Homo sapiens: one gene and its partners. The protein of the gene in region 4 purifies or fractionates together with the protein of the main gene of each other region. This does not show direct contact. Each region holds a gene or a part of one and is shown on either strand. Other genes may lie near its edges.

What was found.
Region 1: the proteins of TMEM183A (region 4) and NAE1 purify together in Homo sapiens (affinity purification with mass spectrometry; one large-scale study listed by BioGRID and IntAct). This does not show direct contact.
Region 2: the proteins of TMEM183A (region 4) and DNM1L purify together in Homo sapiens (affinity purification with mass spectrometry; one large-scale study listed by BioGRID and IntAct). This does not show direct contact.
Region 3: the proteins of TMEM183A (region 4) and SNX3 purify together in Homo sapiens (affinity purification with mass spectrometry; one large-scale study listed by BioGRID and IntAct). This does not show direct contact.
Region 5: the proteins of TMEM183A (region 4) and PNPT1 purify together in Homo sapiens (affinity purification with mass spectrometry; one large-scale study listed by BioGRID and IntAct). This does not show direct contact.

The regions. Positions count from the first base shown.
Region 1 is NC_000016.10:66,809,937-66,814,761, reverse strand, and holds part of NAE1 (NEDD8-activating enzyme E1 regulatory subunit), read left to right. Parts: intron 1-915; coding exon 916-975; intron 976-1,064; coding exon 1,065-1,198; intron 1,199-3,989; coding exon 3,990-4,065; intron 4,066-4,348; coding exon 4,349-4,388; intron 4,389-4,825. UniProt on the Homo sapiens protein: Regulatory subunit of the dimeric UBA3-NAE1 E1 enzyme. E1 activates NEDD8 by first adenylating its C-terminal glycine residue with ATP, thereafter linking this residue to the side chain of the catalytic cysteine, yielding a NEDD8-UBA3 thioester and free AMP.
Region 2 is NC_000012.12:32,730,787-32,735,611, forward strand, and holds part of DNM1L (dynamin-1-like protein), read left to right. Parts: intron 1-227; coding exon 228-348; intron 349-569; coding exon 570-725; intron 726-1,067; coding exon 1,068-1,157; intron 1,158-2,928; coding exon 2,929-3,021; intron 3,022-4,825. UniProt on the Homo sapiens protein: Functions in mitochondrial and peroxisomal division.
Region 3 is NC_000006.12:108,215,244-108,220,068, reverse strand, and holds part of SNX3 (sorting nexin-3), read left to right. Parts: intron 1-4,825. UniProt on the Homo sapiens protein: Phosphoinositide-binding protein required for multivesicular body formation. Specifically binds phosphatidylinositol 3-phosphate (PtdIns(P3)).
Region 4 is NC_000001.11:203,020,131-203,024,955, forward strand, and holds the end of TMEM183A (transmembrane protein 183A), read left to right. Parts: intron 1-662; coding exon 663-818; intron 819-2,724; coding exon 2,725-2,910; 3' UTR 2,911-4,718; downstream 4,719-4,825.
Region 5 is NC_000002.12:55,668,971-55,673,795, reverse strand, and holds part of PNPT1 (polyribonucleotide nucleotidyltransferase 1, mitochondrial precursor), read left to right. Parts: intron 1-716; coding exon 717-903; intron 904-1,749; coding exon 1,750-1,801; intron 1,802-2,419; coding exon 2,420-2,477; intron 2,478-4,825. UniProt on the Homo sapiens protein: RNA-binding protein implicated in numerous RNA metabolic processes. Catalyzes the phosphorolysis of single-stranded polyribonucleotides processively in the 3'-to-5' direction. Mitochondrial intermembrane factor with RNA-processing exoribonulease activity.

The DNA of each region.
Region 1 (4,825 bases), on a different chromosome or scaffold from region 4:
TAAAAGACCATTCTGGCTTTCATGAGGAGAACACAATTGAGGGGACTGGGAGTGGAAGCAGAGAGAGCAGTTAGGAGGTCCCACTGAGACATTTCTTTTTTCCACCCATCAGTAGAATCCAAGCCTATGATTTGTGTGTGTGTGTGTGTGTATTTTTTTTTTTTTTTTTGAGACAGGGTCTCACATTGGTGCCCAGGGTAGAATGCAGTGACACAATCACTGCTCACTGCAGCCTTGACCTCCTGGGCTCAAGTGATCCCCCCACCTCAGCCTCCCAAGTAGCTGGGACCACAGGCACGTGCCACCACGCGCAGCTAATTTACTTTTATGTTTTCTATAGACGGGGTCTTCCTGTTTTGTTCAGGTTGGTCTCAAACTCCTGGGCTCAAATGACCCTCTCACCTTGGCCTCCTGAATGCTGGGATTATAGATATGAGCCATTGTGCTCAGCTTTATACTCTTGATTAACGTATGAAGATCTTGCTAGCAATAAAATTACTTTATGGTTTTAGTTTTTTTCAGAGTGGTTGTCTCAACGGTCACTAATTAGGGTGCAAGGGTTTCAGATTTTTGACAAGATGGAAAATCATGATATACTGCGAGTCTATAATCTGTTTTGTCTTCAGATGTAACTATATAAAATAATTTACTGGGGCCCCTTCTTTACCCCATTTATGGTATAAGAGAATAGGTATTAAATGGTAGCAACAGTGGGCCGGAGAGGTCTTTCTTCCATTCTTTCCCCATCAAATCTTCATATGGTACTGATTCTAAATAAAATTATAAACCAATCAGAAGTTTGTATTTGATTACAATTTGAGAATTCAAAGAACATATCTGAAGAAATAGCACTGAAAATAAAGATGGGCGAATTCTTAATACTGTGTAAGTAAATGTTTCATGTTCCTTTGTTAGATCCCAAGCAGTATTGAAGATATATTTAATGATGATCGCTGCATAAATATCACCAAACAGGTAACAACAACAAAAGTAAAAACATTGCTGCTAAAACTTTGGGTCAAAGTAAAACGCCACTTAATGTTAATTTTTTCTTATTCTTTTAGACTCCATCATTTTGGATTTTAGCTCGTGCCTTAAAGGAATTTGTGGCCAAAGAGGGTCAAGGAAATTTACCTGTTCGAGGCACAATTCCTGATATGATTGCAGATTCAGGCAAATATATAAAACTGCAAAACGTGTATGTCACTGTTTTCAAACTATGTAATAGAAAAAGTCTGATTATATTAGAGATAAACATTTTATCATCCTGTCAGAAATCAAATGAAAGTTTATTACAACCTCATTGCTTATAAATAAACTAGGCCAGCTGCAGTGGCTCATGCCTGTAATCCCAACACTTTGGGAGGCCAAGGTGGGAGAATTGCTTGAGTCCAGGAGTTTGAGACCATCGTGGGCAACATAGTGAGACTTCCATCTCTACAAATTGAAAAATTAGGTGGGCATGGTAGTGTTCGCCTTTAATCTCAACTACTCAGGAGGCTGAGGCAGAAGGATCTCTTGAGCTCAGGAGTTTGAGGCTGCAGTGAGCCATGATCATGCCACTTCACTTCAGCCTGGGTGACAGAGCAAGACCCTGTTTCAAATAAATAAGTAAAAATAAGCTGAAGAACTTAGACCAGGCTGGGCGCAGTGGCTCACACCTGTAATCCCAGCGCTTTGGGAGGCCGAGGCAGGCGGATCACGAGGTCAGGAGATTGAGACCATCCTGACTAACACGGTGAAACCCTGTCTCTACTAAAAATACAAAAAAATTAGCCGGGCGTGGTGGCAGGCGCCTGTAGTCCCAGCTACCCGGGAGGCTGAGGCAGGAGAATAGCGTGAACCCGGGAGGCGGAGCTTGCAGTGAGCGGAGATCGCACCACTGCACTCCAGCCTGGGCGACAGAGTGAGACTCTGTCTCAAAAAAAAAAAAAAAGAACTTAGGCCGGGCGTGGTGGCTCACGCCTGTAATCCCACCACTTCGGGAGGCCGAGACGGGTGGATCACAAGGTCAGAAGATCAAGACCATCCTGGCCAACATGGTGAAACCCTGTCTCTACTAAAAAAATACAAAAAATTAGCCAGGTGTGGTGGTGCGCACCTGTAGTCCCAGCTATTCGGGAGGCTGAGGCAGGGGAATCGCTTGAACCCAGGAGACGGAGGTTGCAGTGAGCCAAGATCGTGCCACTGCACTCCAGCCTGGAGACAGAGCAAGAGTCCGTCTCAAAAAAAAAAAAAAAAAAAAAAAGAACTTAGGGGGCAATTCTTGTTAAGCTCAAAGCAAAATTGAATGGGAAATACAGAATTACCACATACGCCTAGGAGGCAGAGTTTTTTTTCATACTTCATGATAAACTTAATATTTGATCCCTTAACTCTGTGCTATGAACTATATGTATTAAGTAATTTAACACACACACAAGGTTCACAACGACCTTATGAGAGAGAGAGAGACTGTTACCGGCCCCATTTTACACATGAAGAAACTAAGGTATTGAAAAGGTTACTTATACAAGGTCAGATAGCTGGTAAATGGCAGAACCAAGATTTGAACCCCAGGAAACCCAGTACCAGAGCCTGTATGCTTAGCTATGGCCCTATACTACCTTGTATTTGTAACTTAAAACCATGAAGGTTTGATGAATTTTTTATCTTAATGTTTCATAAGTTATAGTCTATGACTATAGCTAGACATCTTGCTATCCAGGTATCACTAGCCTGAACCCAGATAGACTATCACAGGGATGGGTCTCAATGAATATGACCCTCGTATAGTTAGGGCATGGTGCAAAGAATCCAGGTCTGCTGGCTCGGTTTCTTTGGGGTCCAAGTAATGTCACACAGAGATGATCTCTCTTCCCCAGACAGATTTCACTCTTTATCATGTCACCATTGAACGAATCTTGGTTTGTTGTCCTAGCCTAAGAGTTCAACTACTTAAAACTTGGGGAAGGTCAATTGAGGATAGAAAGAAGTATGACCTTACATGGGAGGTAGTCAGCCTGAACACTGATGATTTTTAGAGGGTGAAAGGTAAATAGACGTAAAGAAAACTTTTATGGCCGGATGCAGTGGCTCACACCTGTATTCCCAGCACTTTGGGAGGCCAAAGCGGGTGGTGAAATGTGCCACAAGGGATGTTCACAGTTGTTTTAAATGGTTGAAATTTTACGTTTTCCATGGTCTGTCTCAGTGGTATAGATACAGATAATAATTGGGTAAGGGTTTTTTTTTCCTCTCATAATAAATACAGAGTATTTTAAAACAATCAGAGGTAGAGCATGTTTATCTATGGCAATGCTAAAAAGGTATGAAGGTCAGTTAATTGAAAATTGTCATTAATACAGTATTTTCAGTTTCTAAATCACTTGAACCCAGGAGTTCAAGACCAGCCTGGGCAACATGGTGAAACTCCGTCTCTACAAAAAAGACAAAAATTAGTCGGGCATGGTAGCGTGTGCCTGAATTCCCAGCTACTTGGGAAGCTGAGGTGGGAGGATCAGTTGAGCGTGGGAAGTTGAGGCTGCAGTGAGCCAGGACTGCGCCACTGTACTCCAGCCTGGGTGGCAGAGCGAGATCCTGTCTCAAAAAACAAAGAAGTTTTACATTGGAGATGAACAGTTTTAATGTATTTAACTTTCCTTGGACTTGACTTCCAGGAGATAAGTCATGTTCTTCAGTAATGTATTTTTTCAGGTCCTCTGTCACAGAAGCCGAAATCATAGATCCCTCTAGGGGAGCAGTTTTTAAGTTGGGTGCTGTTAGAGGGACCCTGGGTTTTAGTGGGCACTGAGAGTCCGTCACTAACACTGGAAAGATTCCCAGCTACTCATGGTGCTGTTGATAGCATTTCCCTGGCATTTTCACATTTCATACATTGTCAGACCTGTGTTTTTTCATGAAAAGGAAAGAAAATTTTTGTTCATGGTAACAATTTAAATTTTGCTAATTTAAAAATTTGTTAGTAATTGCTTTTTATTCTTTTTTAGTTACCGTGAAAAAGCAAAGAAAGATGCTGCCGCTGTGGGTAATCATGTTGCCAAATTGCTGCAGTCCATTGGCCAGGTAAGCTACTGGGCACACTGTGCCCATACAGGCCTCAGCACGTAACTCCAGCCAGAAAGGGTTTAGAGACAGAGGGTGTGGCACTGCCTCTGTGCTTCTTTAGAGGGAGCTGTCATTTCCCTGCCTAATGGGATAGCTTGTGATAAGGAAACAAGATATTTTTAAAGTGCTCTCCCAGCTCTTGGAGAAAGCCTTCCCATCTCACAGTGATTGGCTTTGTGCCGCACCCTTTGTTAATCTTCTCTTTTAAACTGGAACAGAATCTGTATTTATCTCTTTACAGGCACCAGAGTCCATTTCAGAGAAAGAATTAAAATTACTCTGTAAGTCCCCTTGAATTAATTTCCTTATTTTGCTTGATAGAAATGTGCCACAGGGAATGTTCCCAGGTATTTTGAATGGTTGAAATTTTAAGTTTTCCATGGCCTCAGTGATATAGATATAGATAATTATTGGGTAAGGTTTTTTTTTTCCTCTCATAATACAATACATGGCGAGTATTTTAAGACTGAATCAGAGGTAGAACATGTTTATCTGTGGCAATGCTAAAAAGGCTTGACGGTCAGTTAATTGAAAATTGCCATTAATACAGGATTTTCAGTTTTTAAATTTTAAGTAATTTAGGAAGTTTTTTTGTCTGAAGACTTTGGGTGTGAAGTCTTGAGTCACATGTACATTGACAATATTGGTTTAAATACTCATTTTGATCTGTGTTAAATGACTGTAATGGAGTTAAGAATTTTGCCATCTAGTTTCGGAG
Region 2 (4,825 bases), on a different chromosome or scaffold from region 4:
TATTTACATATATATAATTTAATGATTCCTTTTCCCCTTTAAAAAAATTAGAGAAACTAGTTCATAATGAGCTGAGTTAGAACACATGGTAATGGGAATGAATGAAATTGTTTATCTGAGGCTTTCTCAGAAAATAAGATGAGCTTAAAGCTTCTAGAAAGACTTCTAACTTGTATCTTCTTTCCCTTTTTGCAATGCCAGAAACCATATACTTCATTGCCTTTCAGATGCGGTGGTGCTAGAATTTGTTATATTTTCCATGAGACTTTTGGGCGAACCTTAGAATCTGTTGATCCACTTGGTGGCCTTAACACTATTGACATTTTGACTGCCATTAGAAATGCTACTGTGAGTATGTTTAGCTTTTTAGACTGTAAAAAAAAATGAGGTTAAAGTTTTTCTTACCCATATACTGTGTCTTTTTAAATTTAATTATACAGTTTATTTTGCTCTCATATTTGAAATTAAAAAGCATTTTTCATGAAAAGTACCAAAAATGTGACTTTCTTAACCCTTGGGAAGAACTGAAATTACATATATAATAAGAGTTCTAAGTTTTATTTTCTCAGGGTCCTCGTCCTGCTTTATTTGTGCCTGAGGTTTCATTTGAGTTACTGGTGAAGCGGCAAATCAAACGTCTAGAAGAGCCCAGCCTCCGCTGTGTGGAACTGGTTCATGAGGAAATGCAAAGGATCATTCAGCACTGTAGCAATTACAGTACACAGGTAACGGAGAGAAATGTAACAGGTTTCACATGAACTAGAAAAGGACATGAAGTGGTGGTTTCACTGGGTGGAAGGAAATGTATAAGATGGGATACAAGGTAAAATCTGTAGTTCCCTTACCTGAAAGTGATTTGAAATAGGATTCTTAAATGTAGTCTCCAAATTGAATTCAGTATTTCTGTGATCATTAAGTAAAAGAAAATGACTGTTAGCCTGGCATGGTGGCTTCTACATGTAGTCTCAGCTACTTGGGAGGCTAAGGTGGGAGGATGGCTTAGTGAGACTATGACTTAAAAAAAAAACAAAAAACAAACACGTTTTTCTTTCATCTACCATTTGTAGGAATTGTTACGATTTCCTAAACTTCATGATGCCATAGTTGAAGTGGTGACTTGTCTTCTTCGTAAAAGGTTGCCTGTTACAAATGAAATGGTGAGCTACTATAGCATAGATCATTGTAATTACTATTAGTAAAAGTTTAAATTTTTGCTTGGCTGCTTTTTAATAAGCATTATATGGTTACTTTAGAGTGTAGGCATAATGTTTTCCAGTGTATTGGGAGGAAAAACAAGTTGAGTTTCAGTCTCATTTTAAAGGAAAATTTTTAATAATTCTGGTATAAAGTGCATTTTTTCTTCATATTTTAATCATTGTTAGCCTGCAGGCATGGGTTTTCTTGAAAATAGATTTATGATTGAGGGGTGTGAATAGCTTTGCTGTATTATTTAGTACCACTGATCTTAAGAGAAAATTAGTTCCATCTTTAGCCTCAGTAAACTGAGCATTTATAGCACACTGTTACTTTGAGGTACATCGGAGTAATCTGGCCACTTCTGCAGTTTGCTTGTTATGACCTAATAACTATAATATCGTAGTTGCTTGCTACTATTCTGTGGGTTGCTGCTATCCACACAAATAAAAATGCTGAAATTGGCAGAAATATGGGATAAGCATTTAAAATTGCCCTCATGCCTCTAATTGTTGGCTGGGTTTTTTGTTTTTTGTTTTCTTTCTGATCACTAAAAGTGCATTTGGGTCCTTGGCTCAGGATGGTGAACCCCGTGGAGGTTTACTAAGAGTACAAAACCATCCTTGGAATGTAAGTGCTGCTGCTTGGTTGTTTCTTTAGCAAGGATAGCCCTCAGATTCTGATGTCTAAGACTGAATTTAGCCCAGAATCATTGGACCTTCATTTTAATAGACCCTTTTTACCCAGTTCTGGACTGATAAGTGCTGTTCTGATACCTGAGATTTGTTAGGACAGCACATAATAAAGGGCTCAAGTTTATTCTCTCTGTAAGACTCAGTGGTGTGGTGGCTCACACCTGTAATCCCAACACTTTGGGAAGTCGAGGCGGGTGGATCACTTGAGGTCGGAAGTTTGAGACCAGCCTGACCAACATGGAGAAACCCCCTCTCTACTAAAAATACAAAATTAGCCGGGCGTGGTGGTGCATGCCTGTAATCCCAGCTACTGGGGAGGCTGAGGCAGGCAGGAGAATCACTTGAACCTGGGAGGTGGAGGCTGCGGTGAGCCGAGATCGCGCCATTGCACTCCAGCCTGGGCAATGAGAGCGAAACTCCGTCTCAAACAAACAAACAAACAAAAAGACTTAGCAATTCTGTAGAGGGCTGGATAAATTAATTTTAACTTTTCTTTTTTATTTTCCTCTTAGGATTTTGAACTACATATAATATTTTAACTAGGTGCTTTATAGTTAAGGCTAATCAGTCACTACCTCAGGTCCTTAGATGTATCCTTTACCCAAATAAGTTAACATCTTTAACTTATGCCTTGTTACGAACTTATTTTCTTATTGTTGAAAATGAACTAAAAAAGTGACAGGGAATAGTGGATGATCTGAAGTTTTAATAGCAAAGTTGCATAAAGTGTTGGAATTTAGATTTGCATTAGGTAGATGACTATTTTTCCCTAAGAGTAAAATACTTGTAGTTACTTTAATGTTATTTTTCCCTCTTAGAAATGCAGTTTTAGATGCTGAAATGTAAATAATTTTAAAGCTAGAGTAAATTATTGTTTGGCATAAGATTTATCAGTTGGAATATAATTATCAAGTAATTTAGGCATAAGTTTCCTGTACTTTTTCGGTATTGTCTGTTTCATAAGTTTTATATATAAATTTCTCAAAGTAAAATATGGTTGATGTATTTTTGTATATCGCCTAACTTACTTTTTTTCTAGGTCCATAACTTAGTGGCAATTGAACTGGCTTATATCAACACAAAACATCCAGACTTTGCTGATGCTTGTGGGCTAATGAACAATAATATAGAGGTAAATATAATTCTTAAATGCTTTTTCACAGGTAGAAAAATCTGTTGTAACTCAGTTATATCAAACTTATTTAGCATGGAGTAACTATAAAATAGACATGTGCCACATTAGTGCCTGCTGCATGTCAGGAAATATGCTGAGGGGATTACATTGTTTTCTTAATTCTCAAAACCACCTGCAGGCATTATTACTTTCTGCTTATGAAATTGAAATTCAGAAAGAATCTGAAAATTCATTGATTTGGTGTGACTGGCTCTATTTTGGTAACTTATAGTTTATACAGGGGAAGTGTGTACAACAAAGTATTTAAAATTCTTTTCATTTGGCTTTGAAAGCTGTGAAGGAAACACTCAAGAATTAACCAACTTAGCATAAATTTGGAAAAGCAGAGTGCTTTTTTCACCACTACTGGGGTGGCTGCATTTCATGGATCTTTTCTTTCCTTTTGATTTTAATGTAACAAATTGAATAAGATCTCAGATGGAGCCAAGGCTGGTGGACAGAGCAATTTATCCAGAAGCCATTTTTTTTCTCTGCCGCTTTTCTCCAAAAATAGTACATTTTTCTGCTACTCCCTAATTCAGTAAGACCTGAGTCCCCTGCTATACCAAATTTCCTCTTCTGCATATCCATGGTGAGAAAATTGTAAACATGCAATTCAGAAGCTGGAAGGGATCCTGTGTTATTGACTTCAACTCTGGTTAAAACAGATGGGGTGGCCAGACGTGGTGGCTCATGCCTGTAATCCCAGCAATTTGGGAGGTCAAGGCAGGTGGATCACCTGACATCAGGAGTTTGAGACCAGCCTGGCCAACATGGTGAAACCCCGTCTCTACTAAAAATACAAAAAATTAGCCGGGCTTGGTGGCAGGTGCCTGTAATCTGAGCTACTAGGGAGGCTGAGGCAGGAGAATCAACTTGAACCCAGGAGGTGGAGGTTGCAGTGAGCTGAGATCGCGCCATTGCACTCCAGCCTGGGCAACAAGGGCGAAACTCCATCTTAAAAAAAAACTGGGGAGCTTGAGGCTTACAGATAGCAGTTATTCCTTTGGTGCTTATTTTGCAGGGCACTATTATAGGAAGCAAGCACCTTCTTAACACAGGTATAGGGAACTAATTTTTGGTTACATAGCTGGGGGTGATTCCTGTTATCAGAAAAAATTCCAAAATGCATACATGAGTAGGCACTTCAAAACACTCAGAAAGTAGGCCAGATCACAGTTATGTTAAAAATTAGCATGTAGACACTTAAAGGATTTAGTTTTTTTTACATTGAAACTAACATCATGAAAAACTTGTGTTTGCGGTAGTTCTGTTACACTGACAAGGTCATATGTGATATGATTTCAGATTAGTATTTTTCTACAAATGAATAGGTTTCTGGTTTTAATGACTGTGCCAGAGAACTTTATGTGGATATTTTCATTTAATCTTTACCATACCCTGAGGGCAGATCATGTCATTAACAGATTAGGACACTAGGGCTTCAAAATAGTTGGTAAGCTGTCCAGTTAGCAAAGCAGGTACTCCACATCTGCTGGGGTCCAGGAGCAGCTCAGATCATAACTGGTTAGTAACAGACTAGGGTGAGAATTCTAGATACCGTGGCCTTTTGCTTTGTATCCCTGTTCAAAATGTACATTTTATCATGCTAATTTTTTATTTTGAAGATTGTTAATATCTATACTTTTATTATCTGTTATTTTTTATTACTGAATACCCGCCCATGAAAAAATAAAATTGGGTCAAATTTCTGTCAAAAAAAATTATTACACATGAAACATCACTGTGGGCTGTGTGCGGT
Region 3 (4,825 bases), on a different chromosome or scaffold from region 4:
GTACAAAAATATGTTCTTTATATTCTTATTCTATAAGCTTTTCTCTATTTAAATTTTTTTAACTTTTTCTTAAAAATTAAGTCACAAATATACATAGTAGCCTAGGCCTGCACAGAGTCAGGATCACCAAGACATCTCTAGGCAATAGGAATTTTTCACCTCCATTATAATCTTAAGGCACCACAGTTATTATCTTAAGTGGTCCATCTCTGATGGGAAACACTGTTATGCAGTGTATATTGCTTTAGGTTGGGCAAATAGATTAGTGGAATATAATAGAGTTTAGAGTTTGACCCATGTATTTATAGGGAATTTAGTTCATAACAAAAATAGCATTGTCATTCAGTGGGAAAGGAATTCAGCAAATGGAGTTGAAATATTTGTCTATTAGGAAATAAAGATTTATATCTCACTATATTACAAATTACAGATGGTTGGGAGATTGATTGATTGATTGATTGACAGAGCCTTGCTCTGTTGCCCAGGCTGAAATGCGGTGGCGTGATCATAGCATACTATAATATCCTCCAACTCCTGGTCTCAAGTGATTTTCCTGCCTCAGCCTCCCAAGTAGCTGGGACTACAGGCATGAGCCACCATGTCCAGCTAATTTTAAAAAATTTTTTGTAAGGATGAGGCTTCACTATGTTGCCCAGGCTGGTCTTGAATTCCTGGCCTCAAGTAATCCTCCTGCCTTGGCCTCCCAAAGTGCTGGGATTACAGGCATGAGCCACCACACCTAGCTGAGAAGTGTCTTGATACATAGGCTTTGGGCTTTGCTTGACATACCATGTGGCACACTGGAAATGTTTAATAAACGTTTGCTGAGTGTATATTTTGCTTTTTTTTGTAAATTTATTTATTCATTTTTTAAAAATTTTTAGTAGAGACGGGGTTTCACCGTGTTAGCAAGACGGTCTCGATCTCCTGGCCTTGTGATCCGCCCGCCTTGGCCTCCCGAAGTGCTGGGATTACAGGCGTGAGCCACCCCGCCCGACCGCTTTTGTTTTTAGTAACAGCTTTATTGAGATATAATTCACATACCATGCAATTCACCCATTTAAAGTGTATAATTCACTGGTTTTTAATATGTTCACAGAGTTGTGCAACCATCACTATTTTAGAGCACTAGTCAATTTTAGAGCATTTTTATCACCCAATAAAAGAAACCCTGTCCCCATTAGTAGACACCACTGATTTCTCCCCAACCCTTCCTCACTCAGCCTATGGCAACCACCTGCTAGTCTCCTTTCTCTGTGGATTTGCCCATTCTGGGCATATGTAAATGGAAGCCCACAATATGTGATCTTTTGTGTCTGGCTTCTTTCACTTAACATGTTTTCACAGTTCATGCTTTTCTAACATGCATCAATTACTTCATTTCTTTTTATTCCTAAATAATATCCTATTGTATGCTTATACCACATCTTATTTATACACTTATTTGGTGGACATTTTGTTCTACTTTTTGGCTGTTATTGGTAGTGCTGCTGTGAACATTTGTGCATAGGTTTCTGTCTGCATGTGTTTTCATTTCTTTTCAGTATATACCTACCAGTACATTGCTGGGTCATAACTCTTTTTAACCTTTTGAGGAATTGGCAGACCGTTTTTCCAAAGCAGCTGTGTAATTTTACATTCTTACCAGCAATGTGAGGTTCTACTTTTCTCCACATCCTTACCAATTGCCTGTCTTCTTTATTATAGCTATCCTACTGTTTGTGAAGGGGTATTGCATTGTGGTTTTGATTTTTATTTCTCTAATGGCCACTAATGTTGATTTTCTTTTCATATACTTACTGGTCATTTATGTATCTTCTTTGGAGACATCTTTATTGAGAGCTTTTGCCTTTTTCAATGGGTTCATCTTTTTATTATAGAGTTATGTCGAGAATATATAAGACTCTTAGAGTTCCCTATCAGATACATAATTTGCACATATCTCCCAGTCTCTGGGTTGTTTTTCACTTTCTTGATGTTGTCCTTTGAAGCACAATACTTCACATTTAACATTAGACCAGTTAAATATATTGAGAGTTAAATCCATGTGAAAGTTTTACTCGTATTACAGTATTGCAAAGAACAATGTAATCAAGTTATTTTGTGGTATATTAGTACTTTTAACTAAGATCTGTTAAACTAAGCTAGAAATTAGCTGACATGTATTATGGTCAGATCTTTTAGCTTTTATTCTAGTTTGCTTTAGCTTTCAATATATTGTGCTCACCAGATATTCTCCTATTTCTCACCCCACATGCACGCACATATCTTTGCATTCATGACTTTTTAATTAGTATTAGAATTTTTTTTTTTTTTTTTTGAGACGGTGTCTAGCTCTCGCCCAGGCTGGAGTACCGTGGTGCAGTCCCGGCTTACTGCAATCTCTGCCTCCCAGGCTCAAGCAATTCTCCTCAGCCTCCTGAGTAAAGGGGTTACAAGCATGCACCACCATGCCCGGCTAATTTTTTGTATTTTTAGTAGACACAGGGTTTCACCATGTTGGCCAGGCTGGTCTTGAACTTCTGACCTCAGGTGATCCACCCACCTTGGCCTCCTGAAGTGCTGGGATTACATATGTGAGCTACCGCACCCAACCTGGTGTTAGAATTCCAGTTAGGTGTTTTCAGACTGCTTCAGCAAAAATAATTTGATGTAGAAGAGAATCTTAGCTGGATGAGCCATTTATGATTTTTATAGATCATTAATCCTGTTGCCTACCACCTCCCCATCCATTTGAATGACTAGTTTGAATATGTTAGGAAGAGTGTATCTCTACAGAGGATAATGCATAGCTATCCTTTTCTTAAATTCCCATTATATATGAAATTTATATATATTTAATTATATATATATTGTTACATTTTTTATCATTTTCCTTCTTTCTTTAACTGACATCCTTGAGCTATCCTTTTCTTAAGTTTCATGCTAAATTCTACCCTGAATTAATGGTGGTCATTTATTTAACACAGTGGTTCCAGAATTCTTTTTTTAAATAATAATTGTGTAGATACAGATATTTTTCCCTGCCCACCAGATAGCCATTCTACTGGAACGTAATGGTTAGCATTCCTTTGTTTCTCAGTTATAGAAGGTCCCTGCAGATTTTAACTCTCAACTAAACAGATGTTAACATGGGGGTGAGATCTGAGAATGCTAGCATAAATTTACGGAGACAAATCCATAGATATCTTCATCATTGGTCATCTGAGGAGAGTAAATCTAGGAAGGGATTATAAAGTTTATTTGGACATTTGGTTTTTTTGTTTTTATTTTGTTTTTTGTTAATCTATATGAAGTCGAGTTGCTCTTTCCCTTTTTTACCCTATTGAATTTTGTTTGAGGATAAACAACTCGTTGTAGAAACTATATCAAGGGTTTAAAGTTTTAATTTTTTTGAATATGTGTAATTTGTATTATTGGTGAAAAGAAAAATATGTATCAGTTTACTATATATATTTCTCCTTGTTCTGATTGTTTGCTTACACATTTCTCTGTTTGCGTTTAAAGTAAGGATCCAGCTAAGTGGTTGGTCATTTAACAGATATTTGAGCTTCTGTTGTATGCCCAGTTTTTCTTAAAATAACCACAAGAAGCCTAAGACAGGGGTCTTGATTTGAAGACATTAGTATGATAGATTGATGGTTTTCCACCAAAGGCAGTTTTATCCCCCAGGAGACGTTTGACACTGTCTAGAGACATTTTTTATTGTCTCAGCTGGGGGTGCTATGTTGTCTAGTGGGCAGAGGCTAGGGATGCTGCTAAAGAAAAGAATGCCAGCCTGGCCAACACAGTGAAACACCATCTCCACAAAAAATAGAAAAATTAGCCAGGCGTGGTAGCACGCTATGTACCTGTAGTGTCCCGGCTATTTGGGAGGCTGATGCAGGAGGATCATCTGAGTCTGGGGGAGGCTGCAGCGAGCCATGATCGCACCACGGAACTCCAGCCTGGGTGACAGAGCAAGACCCCATCTCAAGAAAGAAAAGAATGCACAAGAAAGCCCCCCAGTACAAAACTTATCTGATTCTCAGTAGTGCTAGGGTAGAGAAACCAAACTAACCTGTGAAATAGCTAGGTGCTATTTAATCAAAACAAGTATTTTGAGCTCCAGAATAACATTTTTAAAAATTTATTTTTTTTTTAAGACGGGGTCTCGCTGTCACCTAGGCTGGAGTGCAGCGACATTTTAGTTCACTCCAGTCCTGAACTCCTGGACTCAAGTGATCATCCCACTTCCGCCTCCTAAGTAGCTGGGACTACAGGCTCACACCACCACACCCAGCTAAGTTTTTTTTATTTTTGTAGACATGTGCCCAGGCTTGTGTCAAATTCCTGGCCTCAAGCAATCCTCCCGCCTGCCTTGGCCTCCCAAAGTGCAGGGATTGCAGATGTGAGCCACTGCACCTGGCCCAGAATAATATTTGAGCTCCAGATAATTCCCAGAAGGGAGAGATCAGCAGGAGTTGACCCTTGGTTAGGCTTTGAAGGGGAAAATTTGGGATCTTCCTATAGTGCGAGAAGGGAGAAATGACAGGTCTTTGGGAAAAGACAGCAGGATAGGGCATTTGGGAGAAAGTTGACTTGTTTCTTAATTTAGGAAACAGAATAGTGACAACTAGAGTTATTGGTATTTTGTCATCACCTCAAACACAAGTAGGAAAGACTGTATGCAGATGGTAAGAGGTTGAAGAAACCAGAAATCTTTTTTTTTTTTTTTTTCTAGACGGAGTCTCACTCTGTAGCCCAGCTGGAGTGCAGTGGCGTGATCTCCACTCACTGCAAGCTCTGCCTCCCGGGTTCATGCCATTCTCCTGCCTCAGCCTCC
Region 4 (4,825 bases):
TAAGTTTGTAATTAAAGTAAACCTTATTTTCCTATTGATTTATTTCAAAAACATGGTTCTGGGGAAGAATTTTAGTTCTGATATCTTGCATTTAATAAGATCTGCACAGTCTGTGATATCCATTAGACACTGGTAGAAAGTCCACCTTTCTGAGAAGGGATTGAGAGGCAGTCTTAGTGGTGAAATGTGACTAGAAGCAGACACTAGGATTACTGCAGGAAAGTGAATGCCGAGATTTTCCTTTAGTTCCGAGACTTGTGATTCCTTTATTTTATGGTGTCTGGAATTAGGTGGCCACTTCTGCTTCCATCCCTTTTGTGCAGCAGATGTTCTTTGGAGTCTGACAAGTTACAAGGAATTTGCAGTCTTTCAAACATTGTAGAACCTCTGGTAGAGGCTGTAAGTTTCCATTTCTTGTCAGATGGCAAGGAATACCATCTAAACGAAGCATAAACCCATTGCCACATTTGCTCATCCAAATGTATTTACCCTTCTTTCAAAGGGTAGGTTTTCTTTGATCTCTGTATAGAAACATGTATAAAGAGAGAAGATAAAAGTGTATCTCACTAGCTTTAGTTGAGCCATAGGATTTTCTTTGGTGGACTCTTAGAGCCATATAATGTTTCTTCTAAGCCATTGGATTAATTCTCAGTTCTCTTCAGTCCCCTAGGTTAAAGAGCAAGTGTACAGGAGGATTGCAGCCTCCCGTTCAGTACGAAGATGTTCATACCAATCCAGACCAGGACTGCTGCCTACTGCAGGTCACCACCCTCAATTTCATCTTTATTCCGATTGTCATGGGAATGATATTTACTCTGGTAAGTGGGGACTCAGGATGTCATTCTCAGCTCCTTTTTTTTTTTTTTTTTCATTCTGAAAGGAGGTGAACCGCAGCTCTTTTTTTTTTTTTTTTTTTTAAGAGACGTGGTCTCACTCTGTCACTCAGGCTGAAGTGCAGTGATGGAATCATCACTCATTGCAACCTCAAAACTCCTGGGCTTAAGCTATCCTCTTGCTTCAGCCTCCCAAGTAGTTAGGACTACAGGTGTGCACCACCACCCCTAGCTAATTTTTATTTTTTGTTGCAATGGGTGTCTCACAGCGTTGCTGAGGCTTGTCTCAGACTCCTAGCCTCAAGCAGTTCTTCCACGTCGGCCTCTCAAGTGCTGAGATTATAAGTGTGAGCCACTGCATTCAGCTTTTTTATAGATTTTTGCTATATCTGAGGTTTGAAGGATATTTGTAAATTTAACCATGAAGGAAGGTATCTTTTTTCAAAAAAAAAGTTTGAACTCAGTCCTGTATATTAGCAACAGACAGATTTGTGGAGACATTAATTATATCTGAGAGTATTTTACCTTGTTTCCTTCTTTGTAGGAAAGGGAATGTTTTTGCATTTTCATGTGTAGTGATGATTAATGATTGAGAAACATTATCCTATTAGGAAGAATGATGAGATATATACATGGGCACTGTATGTCAGGACCTTGAGGCATGCATATGGGGTTACAAATGGGATATTAAAATACAGGGTGACCAGCTCAGCTCTGTCCTTTGTGTGATATTATCACTGTTCAAGGCTTGGCCAGTAATTAGTAAACAACGTATGTGCCTCTGGCATATTTTTCCAGGTTTTAAAAATTTTTCATTGGCTTGGCAACTGGAGAGTTCATGTAATTTGTCTTCTCTGTATCTTAGGCTTACATTCAGAAATACATGAGGTTCCCCTTCCACAATGAAAGTAGCTTTTTTAAAATGGTAAATGACTTCAAATAATACATAAATATACTGACAAAGTAAAGGTGACTTAGACTTCCACTATCCTGTAACTGCAATTAATCTTTTGGGAACTGTTCTCTTAATGTGTCTGTTAATATGTATGTACTCTCTCTCTCTCAAATAATTTTGTATAATTGAGATTGTGTCATATATACAGTTTTGTTTTGTTTTTTTTGAGATGGAGTCTCGCTCTGTAGTCCATGCTGGAGTGCCGTGGTGCGCAGTCTCGGCTCCCTGCAACCTCTGTCTCCTGGTTTCAAGTGATTCTCCTGCCTCCGCTTCCCAAGTAGCTATCTGGGATTACAGGTGCCTGCCACCACACCCAGCTAATTTTTGTATTTTTGGTAGAAATGGGGTTTGCTCAGGCTGGTCTCAAACTCCTAACCTCAGACAATCTGCCTGCCTTAGCCTCCCAAAGTGCTCATTAGGGAGGCTTTCTTTAGCATAGTTTAAACGTGAAGCTGAGAAGGCCTTATAAAATTCTCCTTAATTTTTTATATCTTTAAAGGTTGGCTGGGCGTGGTGGCTCATGCCTGTAATCCCAGCACTTTGGGAGGCCGAGGTGGGCAGATCACTTGAGGTCAGGAGTTTGAGACCAGCCTGGCCAACATGGCAAAACCCTGTCTCTACTAAAAATACAAAAATTAGCCGGTCATGGTGGTGCACGCCTATATTCCTAGCTACTTGGGAGGCTGAGGCACAAGAATCGTTTGATCCCAGGAGGCGGAGGTTGCAGTGAGCCGAGATCACATCACTGCACTACAGCCTGGGCAACAGAACGAGGTCCTTTCTCAAAAAAAAAAAAAAAAGGTGTTTGTTTTATAATTTAGAGATTAATCTTGTGGCCTAGCCAGTATAAATTAGTCTGGACTATTTCATTTCAGAGTGAGCTCTTGGAAACCAAGGTTGTGTAAGTTGGATACTGAATTTGCTTTTCCATTTCAGTTTACTATCAATGTGAGCACGGACATGCGGCATCATCGAGTGAGACTGGTGTTCCAAGATTCCCCTGTCCATGGTGGTCGGAAACTGCGCAGTGAACAGGGTGTGCAAGTCATCCTGGACCCAGTGCACAGCGTTCGGCTCTTTGACTGGTGGCATCCTCAGTACCCATTCTCCCTGAGAGCGTAGTTACTGCTTCCCATCCCTTGGGGGCAGCCTCGAGTGTAGTCCATTAGTAATCAGATTCCAGTTTGGACAGGGTGGCTGGATTGTATATCTCGTTAGTAATGTACATGCTCTTCAGGTTCTAGGGCTCCTGTTAGGGGAGGGAGAAATGTTGAATCAAGAGGGAAAACAACTACTATGATTTATAAACATATTTTAATGTAAAAATTTGCATTTAAAAGGAGTGGCCCTGTTTTCTGTGTTAAAACCCCATTTGGTGCTATTGAGTTTGTTCTTTATTCTTTTATCCCAGTGAAAATTGTTGATCTTGCTGTAGGGAAAAATTAAACTCTTTGAATCTCCAAACAAGGAAGTTTCAGCATTCCCTTATGGATCAGAGGAACCTTAGAGGCCTGAAATTGTTGCTTCCAGTTTAGCTGCCCCTCAAATTCAAGTGAATATTTTCCCTTCTCCCTTTACCCTTCTCCAGAAATAAAGCAGGTGACAGGGTTTTCAGAATCTTACCATATTGACTTGTGTATCTTTTTTAAAAAATAATTTGTGATATTTATTGCATACATTTTCTTTTGGCAGTTTTGGATTTTAGGTATTTTTTTGCATGAGGCTGATAATGGTGATGATGACTTTATACCCTTGGTACTATACTAGGAACTTTACATAGTATCTCTACTTCTCACAGTCTTGCAAAGTAGGTGATATTATTCCCATTTTATAGTTGAGAAAACGGAATTAGTGACTGTACCTATAACACCAGTAAATGCAGAGCCAAGATTCTGACCCAGGTCTTTTTGTTGTACCATAAGTTTAAAAGATGAGTCTCATTTTTCTTGTGGTAGATGGTGGTAAAAAGGAGTAGGCAGAGTGTACATAGATAAAAAAAAGTAAAAGGGTAAGTAAAAAATTGATTGTGGTATATGTTATTCTAATCAGCCAAAAAAGTTTAGAAGATTGATGAAATGATCTTTTAAATATGTATTTCTGAATAAAATGTAAAACCAAGAAAGTTATTTCAGGAAGGATAGTGACCCTTTCCTTGAACTGTTAGAAGGGCATTTATTAGGCTAAAACGTCATTAACAAAATGCATTGCATGTTGAAACCAGCCTCTTGAACCATAAGCACTTAGCGACTTTGCTCTGCCCTGTACTGTGCTGCTTCTGCTGTCATCCTGTGTGCCTACAGAAGCCTGGTCTTCCGTCCATGCAGAAATGCTTATGTCCTCCTGTTGTTTAGATGACTCCTATTGTTCAGGTGTACTCTGAGAAGAGAATCACGTTTTTCTGTTTTGCTAAGGAGAAAACCTTGCTGCTTGTCTCTCCTCCCACCCTCCACCATCCAAAATTAACCAGTGAGCTGGATATTACCTGGATATTGCCAGGAGGTGGGCATTAAGACAGTATTCTTTAAAAGTGAAAATCTTGTGAGGCAAACTGCTAAATTCACATTTTTGTTTTTTTTTTTTTACCATCTTCCCTAGGAATATTCCTAGAAAGCATCTGCTTAATTTTGCTGCTAACAGCTAACCTTATCCCACGTTGAGGGTGGTATTAAAACTGTTCACACAGAGTGAGCCTGGGTCAGTCAAAAACAGAATTTGGGCATTTGAGTGATAACAGACAACCTAAGGACAATGAGCACTTTGCAGATCTCTACAATTAAAAGTTGCCTCTTTGAGGCAGGAGGGGAGAAGCACAGTCCCTGCCAGGTTGCCTGAACTAAAGATGCCATGGAGCAGGAGTGTCTTGGTGCATTGTTCCCCGCTTAGGAGTACCTTTAAAAAGGGGGTGAAATAAATTTGGCTTAATAATTGTATTCTGACTCAGCTCTGAGTTTTTTGTGTCAAATTCCATGGTATGGTGACAGATACAGTACTAGATACTGCCTCAGCTCTCTCTCAGCATAATATTGACAAACATTTG
Region 5 (4,825 bases), on a different chromosome or scaffold from region 4:
ACAGTTCACAGAAAAGGACATACATATGGCCTTTTAAAAATATAAAAAGATGCCAGGCACAGTGGCTCACGTCTAATCCCAGCACTTTGGGAGGCTGAGGCAGGCAGATCACAAGGTCAGGAGATTGAGACCATCCTGGCTAACACAGTGAAACCCCATGTCTACTAAAAATACAAAAAATTAGCTGGGCATGGTGGCGGGCGCCTGTAGTCCCAGCTACTCGGGAGGCTGAGGCAGGACAATGGTGTGAACCTGGGAGGCAGAGCTGGCAGTGAGCCGAGATTGCGCCACTGCACTCCAGCGTGGTCAACAGAGTGAGACTCTGTCTCAAAAAAAAAAAAAAAGTATTAAAAACAAATGCACTTGTATACTTTAAAAGATTTAATTTTTATTTTATGTGACTTATAGCTCAATAAAACTTATTTTTAAAATATGTGCATGATTTCTTTTTTTTTTCTGTTTCATTTTTTATGGGAAATCCCTCCTTAAACTTAAGGAGAATGTAAACCTAAATACAGATATCAAGGTGTCTTTATTCATTTACCGCTGCTTACATTTTGGAAGTATGTTGATTCTGAGGAAAGAAATCAAGGTGGATCTATCACTAAGAAGTAAAATTGATCCATAATATTTATGTCATGTCATGGTATTTGAAAATGTTATATTACTAAGAGCTTCGATGGCAGTCATTTTTTTTTTCTTTTTCCTTTAAATAGTCATGTTGGAAGCCTCTGCAGAGAACATTTTACAGCAGGACTTTTGCCATGCTATCAAAGTGGGAGTGAAATATACCCAACAAATAATTCAGGGCATTCAGCAGTTGGTAAAAGAAACTGGTGTTACCAAGAGGACACCTCAGAAGTTATTTACCCCTTCGCCAGAGATTGTGAAATATACTCATAAGTAAGAACATCTGTGCAAATGAAAATATGAAATTGTCATCAGATTTAATTTCCTCGTGGGAGAGAAACTTCCCATGGAAGCACTGCCCATGCATTACTTCATAAATAGCACTTTTCTGTTTTAAGAGTCATTCCCATAAATATCTGCTTACTCCCTTAAAAAGGATAAGCCCACATCACTCTTGTAAGACCTAACTTTGAATCTCAAATGAAAGAGTGTGTTTATTGGTCAAGATTCAGGTAAGCACCACATCTCTCCACGTCTAGGAAAAAGAATAAAACGTTAAGATATTTGAATATCTAAGGAAACTGTTGGAATTCTCAAAAAGAAATCAGAGGTAATCACTGTTACATGCCCAGTGCTTAGAACGTTAGGCAGACACTCAGTAAATGTAAATGAATCACTGGAAAATTATTTTATTTGAAAAAATTGAAAAGGTTAATACTTTCCCTTAATGTCAGTTGCACAGCCATGAGTTGGAAATTAAATTAACTCTTTCTAGCAAAAGAGTTTCATGTGATAATGGAGCCAAAATGGGTAGAATGAAGAAAGGAAGAGGTTAAAAAGAATATATGAAAGGTGAAATTAATTGAACAATTAAGAAGAAAAGAACAGGATACTACATGTGGTTTCCCCTGGGAGGGTGGGAGAAAGAAATTTGTGTTCTATACCATAAATAGTAAACAGATTAGCAATGATAAATAGCAATATAAATTTTCAATTCTTTCTGAAGTATTTATTAAAGTTTTAGCTGATTATTATTAAATATTTCAGTTTTGTTTATAATAGAAACTGCCTCTTGTTTCCAGATATTATTATGCTAACATTTATTTTCTGCTTAAATAGACTTGCTATGGAGAGACTCTATGCAGTTTTTACAGATTACGAGCATGACAAAGTAGGTATACCTGAGTTTTGTCTTCCATAATTGCCCTAGGAATACATTTTTGTCATAACTCATGTAATTTTCTTTATGAATGCTAGTCCTATTTTTATTAAAAATCTCTAAATGAAAAACTAACAAAAGCCTAATTGTTTCTCCATTCTTTTGTTTTGTTTTGTTTTTGAGACAGAGTCTCTCTCTGTCGCCCAGGCTGGTGTGCAGTGGCATGATCTCAGCTCACTGCAACTTTCGCCTTCCAGCGATTCTCATGCCTCAGCCTCCCAAGTAGCTGGGATTACAGGTGCACGCCACCACACTCAGCTATCTTTTGTATTTTTAGTAGAGACGGCCATGTTGGCCAGGCTGGTCTCAAACTCCTGGCCTCAAGTGATCTGCCCACCTTGGCCACCCAAAGTTCTTTTCTTTTTAATATAAGTTTTAGGGGAGTGTACAAATGTATTTGAATGAATTAACATGTAGTATTTGTCATAAATCAAGAACCAATTCCAATATTTTAAAGAATATTAAAGAAATCAGAGTAATTCACAATGTGTTCATTGTATAATAATTAGAAAACAGAAATATTAAATGTTGTCATGTATATGTAATAACTGAACCTCAACTTTCTTTTAGGTTTCCAGAGATGAAGCTGTTAACAAAATAAGATTAGATACGGAGGAACAACTAAAAGGTAAATTTTATTTTATTTTATTTTATTTTTTTGCTGAGGGCAGCTTTAATAAGGCATGGCCTGACTCTTGCTTCTTGGGATTAAAGGTCAAAGAGGAAAGGCATCACATCTGTAGGAAAAGAAGAATTCAAAGGACTTTCAACTTTACAGCTGCTGTTCCCTAGACCTAGAATGCTCTCTCATAGCAGGTGGTCTTCTTCTAACCCAAGGTTCAAATGCCACCTCTTCTCCAAAGCTTCCCCGAACTGTTTCGGGGAAAGAGAAAGTCCCCTTTGCACAGAACCGCTATTACTATGTATTTTTTAATTTTAAAAGCATTAAAAGAAATAATAGACTTTTTTTTTTTTTAACTTTAGTTGAAGATCTCAAATAAATGTTACTCTCATTGCTTCTCAGCTTTATTTTCAATAAACTTGTAATAATGATAGCTCACAAGGTTACTGCTAAATTAACTTCTATGAATGTAGCTAGCACTACATTTGATGCAGAGTAGGTACCTAGTAAATGTTGAATGTGAATGTTCCTGATCTTTTCTGAATCAAACTCCTACCATACAAGAAATGTAACCTGGTATCTTATCATTTGAAAACCCAAATATATTCTTTAAAATTCTTGAGTTCTTGATCTGTGAAATTGCAGTGTTAATAATACCTGGTTTATGGGGATTAAATGAGTGAATCATTTACATCTGTGCCTGCCACACCGTAAGTGTTCAATAAATGTTAACTGATGCTATTCTTAATACCTAGTGGAATCATAAGATACAGAACTTAGGTAATTTAGCTCTCCAGAAATTATTAAGCAAAGGATCTTACTGTATAATATCAACCTCTGGCCAGGCGCGGTGGCTCACGCCTGTAATCCCAGCACTTTGGGCGGCCGAGGCAGACAGATCACGAGGTCAAGAGATCGAGACCATCCTGGCTAATACGGTGAAACCCTGTCTCTACTAAAAATACAAAAAGTTAGCCGGGCGTGGTGGCGGGCACCTGTGGTCCCAGCTACCCAGGAGGCTGAGGCAGGAGAATGGCGTGAACCCAGGAGGTGGAGCTTGCAGCGAGTCGAGATCGCGCCACTGCACTCCAGCTTGGGCAACGGAGCGAGACTCTGTCTCAAAAAAATAAATAAATAAATAAAAATAATAGTAATAATACCAACCTCACACAAACTGAATATAAATGAAGTATGACATAGTTTTTGTTAATTTTTCTAATAGACAAATATACTCTCACATGAATATTTATTTTAAGATAAAAAACTGGCCAGGCGTGGTGGCTCATGCCTGTAATCCCAGCACTTTGGGAAGCCAAAGTGGGTGGATCACTTGAGATCAGGAGTTCAAGACCAGCCTGGCCAATATGGTGAAACCCCATCTCTACCAAAAATACAAAAATTAGGCGGGCATGGTGGCAGGCTCCTGTAATCCCAGCTACTTGGGAGGCTGAGGCATGAGAATCACTTGAACCTGTTAGGCAGAGGTTGTAGTGAGCTGAGACCGCCACTGCACTCCAGCCTGGGCAATAGAGCAAGACTCCATCTCAAAAAAAAAAAAAAAAGTGCTGTTAGCATTGATATTAAGGCCATTAATTGTAACTGTCATTGAATATGTTTAGTCCTTTCTCACTACATTTCATCCTATTTGGTAAGAAAGAAATTTTATAGCGAATATTGTCTTATTTTAAAAGAATAGTGACTTTTTGTTTGTATTATACATAGTAGAATATCTTCACGACCCTCTGGGTTGATAGGATATTTTAAACATTTTGGTACTGATTGTTTTCCTTTCCAAGTACAACTCAGTTAAGCAGAAAAGATATTAAAGTCTAATATTAAAAATTATTCTTTTCTGAAGAAGATACAATCTAATATATCTTTCTGTGACCATTTCTTGTGTTTTGGTTACTTTGAAGTTATGTTTAATAAACCATACACATGAGAGAATAGTACTTAAAACTTGGCATAAATTAATTGATAGGGTAGAATAGCTTAACATCTAAACCCTAAGCTAAAAATAAAATAAAATAAAACCATAAGCCTTTGAGGCTGACAGATCTTTATTCAGGTCACAGCTGTATCAGTTACTACCTGTGTGGTCTCAGGCAGTTTACTCCACCTCTTTATTTTTTATTTATGTTTTTTTTTAAACTCAGTGGTTATCTCTTACACAGTACTTCACCCCTTTAAGCCTCAGTTTTTTCTTCTGTAGAATGGGAATCATAAAATTTAGTTCATAAGTTATTATGAAAGTTAAAAGCATTAAAAAACCAATAAAGTGCCTGGCTCATGAAAGCATTTGACAAATATTAGATAGAAAACAGTTTGTAGGGATTTCTAATATATTTTTAAAA